2 separate regions of the Homo sapiens genome follow, and region 1 is linked to region 2. A link means that fine-mapping ties the variant in region 2 to the expression of a gene that starts in the linked region. Tissue or cell type: unexposed skin. Region 2 holds a variant in brackets; the other region holds the start of a gene. All regions are shown on one strand. Distances are from middle to middle.

The links. PIP is the estimated chance that this variant, and not a neighbour inherited with it, causes the effect.
Region 1: MYRFL starts here. The variant in region 2 is fine-mapped to the expression of MYRFL in unexposed skin (GTEx, PIP above 0.99).

What each region holds. Positions count from the first base shown.
Region 1 is chr12:69,824,095-69,826,757 of GRCh38, reverse strand. It overlaps MYRFL (myelin regulatory factor like), which reads right to left and starts at 1,531. Exons shown (of 25, transcript NM_182530.3): 1 at 1,195-1,531. The coding sequence starts at 1,240.
Region 2 is chr12:69,971,473-69,974,329 of GRCh38, reverse strand. No RefSeq gene overlaps it. Among named protein-coding and RNA genes, the nearest start is that of MYRFL, 150 kb to the right of the region's middle. The variant G/A (reference allele first, on the strand shown) is at 1,316.

The DNA.
Region 1 (2,663 bases), 150 kb after region 2:
CTACCACCTTTTCCAACTATTCACAGATAATGTAAGAAAAACACTGAAGACAAATACTTTTATAATAATGATCAGATAATTGTAACAAGCTGTAGAGGGGACTTGTAGAAACTATATCCATAGAAACCTCCAAAAATAGTATAAACAAGGACAGTATAGGGATCCCATAGAAATAAAAGCTCTTTCAAAAAACAGAAGGTAGACCAAATTCGATATTCAGGTCTTCCCTAGCTCTAGAAGGAAATGGAGTAGATTTTTGCATGTATACAATAAATTGCTGGTTTCTCTAAAATAGATGCAATGGTAGATTGAAGCTTGCCACCTGCTGCTCAAACGAAAATTATATATGATATAAAATCAGGCAATAACAGTCTAGCAACACTAGTGTGCCTACCATGTGCCAAGCATGACCCAGGTAGACAATACCAACTTGGCCACTGTCAGAGACAGAACACTCAATGGGATGGATGGTAGGACAAGATAATGTGATAATTCTCTTGGTCTTATGTTTCTTCTTGCCATTTCTGGAAAAACCCAAGCCACAGAAACTACCCCATGGTGTTGATTCCTCCCAATAGTGACATAGAATCTCACTATTTCTTTGGTACGCCCCGTCACTCTTTAGTGTTCAGCATTGTTTACTATTCAGCCCATTCCATTCAACTTTTAAATATATATTATTTGTCAGGCACTTTACAAAGCACAAGAAATACCTAAAGCACTTTTCTCGATGTGCTGCTGACTGATCCCTAGATTCTGTAAATGAGCAGGTCTTCCCTCACTTCTTCTCATACTCCCTCATGCAAAATACCTTACCGTGTAAAAATGATGGTCACGTTTCCCTTCACATGGAATTTGAGCATGGCTATGTAGTTTTTTTAAACATAGGGCATGGGAAAAAATAAAATCTAGTACAGGACAGGGACAAGTAATAACAACATAAATATGCTGACCCCTTGATTCTAACAACCAAACTATAAGATGAAAATCCTGTTTTGTTTAAAATCTCTATCCATACCATTGAATTTTGCTCCCAATGTAGCAAATAAACCCCTACTTTTGATATTAGGAGAGTTACCTAAGTATGATAGCATTTCTTTCAAAACAAAGTTTAAGTGAATACGGAAAAGGTGAAACAGGGATAGTGAGCATTTCTCAGAAGCAGCAAATTCATGCTGGAAATTGGCCTCTTACCTTCAAAGAACTGCTGCAGGGCCTCATTTTCGCCTACCACATCCATGGTACTGTGATCCTAGTACTATTTCCTCATAAAACAACGGTTATCAGACCTCAGGAAATAAGTACTGTCCTTTTGATTCGAAGCCTACGAATGCTCTTGAAAAATCTTCATTTTCTTTTTATTGGAGTGAAGCATATCTTCAGCCATCAAATTGTGCCCAGAAAGATGGTTGAGTTTTCAAATGTGATTATAAAACTGGAAGGATATACAACCATACATTTAAAAAAAATTCATGAAGAGGGAAGAGGTAGCAAATTCATCTGTCTTAATATAAGGAACTGTTTCTACTCTGCTTTTCGTCTTTAAGGACCTTTGTCCTTAGTGACACATGCAATTACATAAATGGGCAATAAATACATAGTCTTATCTCATATTTGTCCTTTTACACCAATATATTTATATCTCCACCTTTATCAACTAGATCCACTTAGCTACCACCAATAAAACATACTTATTTTTTTAACCTAGAAAAAAGGGATAAATCAATATAATTACTTTTATAGATACCTATCATCACAGGTAATTTTAAAAGGCTTGTGATAATGAAAAGTTAGAATTTGTTAAGTATTTCCAAACTTACAGCAAAAACTTAAATTCCTTAATACATACCTGTTCCATTTCCTCTAGAGCTTATTTGCTTCCAAAGCATAAACCATAAAGTATGAGAAGTCTCTCTAACAAGCAACGAAAACTGCATTACCAATTTAATAATTCTTACAGTTGAGTCACTAGTAACTTGATTCACTCCTAAATATAAAACCATACCCGAATAAATGTTTTGTTTTCACTGCTTAGCTATAATTCATTTAACAATAGCCTAAGAAAATACAATTAGGAAATTAAATTATCCTTTCGCCCCTTCCTTTTCTTTTTTCCCAACTATTTGGAAAAAAAATAGTATCATAAAATATCCATATACTCTTCATCTACACTTACCAATTATTGACACTCTCTCATATATATATATATATACACATACATATATATACATATATATATACATATATACATATATATATGAGACAGAGTGGTAGCAGTGGATATGGATATGTGTGTGGATATGGATATGTGTGTGGAAGGATATGGATATATATATATCCATATATAGTTTGTTTATATATATATCCATATAGTTTTTATATATATAGTTTATTTCTAATTTTTATGGATACACAATAGTTGTACATATTTATGGGGTACATATATTTTGATACAAACATACAATGTGTAATGATCAAATCAGGGTAATTGGGGTATCCATCACCTCAAACATTTATCATTTATCATTTATGTTGGGAACATTCCAAATCCACTCCTTTATTGTGAAATATAAATTATTGTTAACTGTATTTACCCTATTGTGCTACCAAACACTAGATCATATTCCTTCTATATATTTTTGCACCCATTACCCAACCCCTCT
Region 2 (2,857 bases):
TATTATTTGCACCTACTTCACTTCATATAAGTAATAAAATACTTTTATTTCTCTCTGTGTTTATCCTTTAATTACACATCAGATGCCTTACCTGAAACTACAAGTACAAGAACAGGCTGCTCCAAACAAAAGCACAAAAGCTTAGAGCCGGAGAGTTCTCTGAAGACAAAGGTTTTCAAGTCTTGTTGAAATAGAGCCGCAAAATGAGCAGGAGGGGCAGCTGCTAACCAGTGCCCCAGCCATGGCCCAGGGTAACCAAATTCCTTACTGTTCTGGGGGACAGAAATGCCAATAACGCGAAGTTCAGCCAGGTAAACTATGCTGATTCTCAAACCAACAATCTCTGGGTGGGGTTGGAAACTCAGACCTGGGAAGAGCATCAGCAAGCCCTGGGGTTTAAGAGCACTCCTGACCTCCAGACCTACCTCTTTAGCCAGTCTAGGGCACTTAGGGCTCAGCTTAAGGTTCTTTATCTTTCGTTCCACACTCCCAGGATCCTCCTGGGACAAATGGGAAAAGAAGATAAAGTTTGATGGCTACTAGAGTCAATGGAGTTAAAGGCAATGCTGCCCTTGGAACTGTTGGAAATACCAAAGAACAATTGCAGATCAAGAGCAGCAGTGAGTGTGGAGACATACACTCACACTTACCATAATAGAATAGAAACTAGAGGGTTTGTGTTCACTTATCAGCTCCACTACTTCCCAACTTATAACATTTGCCTACTCACCAACTAGTAAATATCTGCTACATAGTGAAAGCTCCAAAACTGTTGGTTAATGAATGTTGAAATCACTTAAGCTTTTTGGGCTTCTCTGGCTCCATATTAAAAATAAGGAGATTGGCCAGGTGCAGTGGCTCATGCCTGCAATCCCAGCACTTTGGAAGGCCGAGGTGGGTGGATCACTGGAGCTCAGGAGTTTGAGACCAGTCTGGGCAACTCAGCGAAGCCCCGTCTCTACCAAAATTACAAAAATGAGCCAGCACACACCTGTGGTCCCAGCTACTAAGGAGGCTGAGATGGGAGAATCGCTGGAGCCTGGGAAGTCAAGGCTGCAGTGAGCCAAGGTCCCACCACTGCACTCTAGCCTGGGTGACAGAGTGAGATCCTCTCTCAAAAAATAAAAATAAGGAGATTGGACTATCCAATTGGTAATAAGGATAGGCACTGATACTTATTGAACACTTAATATATGTGGGGGACTGTTGTGAATTAATGAAATGTATTGTCACAAAAAACATGTTATCTCCTTTTAACATACAAGGAAATCAAAGCACAGAGAGGTTGGGTAACTAGCCCCACATCACACATTTG[G/A]TCAGGCAGAACCAGGATTCAAAACTCCAGAATCCATGTGTTTTCCCAGTATGTTTTTGTCAACTTCCAGCTTATGCTATTATAATGATTCCCACTTTGTTACCTGCTCATTATCAATAAGATGTTTAATCTCTTACTCTGACTCTATATATACTGCCTGTATTACTTCCCAGAGATTAGTCCTCTGTGTATCCATCAATACTTGAGCCTTCAAACATCGAAGAAAAGCTTGTATTTATAATTCAAATAAGAGAAACTAGACATTTTATATCTACTTGTGGATAGTATAAAGTGGAGAGGGATAGCAAGAATGTTGGATGACAATCACCACCTAAACATACTGACAAGCAACATAAAAGAACCCATCTAACAAGATATGGGGAATGGGAAAAAATGCAGTGGTGTGCTGATGAAGAAGCTCTCTGAAAACAAAAACCCTGATTTGGAGCATCTTCCTGAGAAGCGTTATGGGCCAAGATGTACGCAGAGGAGGCACAGTTGTGTGGGAGAAAAATCACAGGACGCGGATTCAGATGTCTGAGAGTAAGTCGTACCTGCTGTGCAACCCGAAGCAAGTCTGTTTACCTCATGGAACCTGCCTCTACTGCTGGAAGTGGGGATGTGTCAGGTACCTCACAGGCTTGTCATGAGGACTGAGTGAGATGACATAGGAAAACACTTGCCAAACTTGAAAGTCTTGCTCCTCAGGGTGTGTCTCATGCCAGCAGCATCAACAGCATCCAGGACTTTGTTGGAAAGGCACGTTCTCAGGCCCCACCCCAGACCCACTGAAATAGAGTCTGCATTTCCACAAGATCACCAGGTGATTGTGTGCACATTAACGTTTGAGAAGCCCTATTCTAAAGAACCAAACAAATGTAGTGTGTTGAAATTTTGGACTTTTTTCATATTCTGCCAAGGAAATACATCATGGCCAAATTTAAAGAAATGGGCCCCCAGCACTTTGGGAGGCCGAGGCGGGTGGATCACGAGGTCAGGAGATCGAGACCATCCTGGCTAACACGGTGAAACCCCGTCTCTACTAAAAATACAAAAAATTAGCTGGGCAAGGTGGTGGGCACCTGTAGTCCCAGCTACGTGGGAGGCTGAGGTAAGAGAATGGTGTGAACCCGGGAGGTGGAGCTTGCAGTGAGCCGAGATCGCACCACTGCACTCCAGCCTGGGCAACAGAGTGGGACTCCGTCTCAAAAAAAAAAAAGAAAAGAAAAGAAAAGAAAGAAATGGGCCCCTCTCAGAGTTTTCCATAATCCTCCTTCCCTGGGTCCTGATGAGCTCCCTAGGTTTTGGGGAGCAGATGCCCATCATGTGGCCAAGTGGGTTATTCCTGGAGAGCAGTTCCCTTTGCTCAGGAATGGACCACTTGAGAAAGTCATTGCCTAATAAAATCCCTTATTGTTTTCAAGGGAAGACAACCAATAAAATGCAAGCCTACTGATATGGTATGGCTGTGTCTCATCATGAATTGCAGTTTCCATAATCCCCACGGGTGGTGAGAGGGACTGGTGGGGGCTAATTGAATCA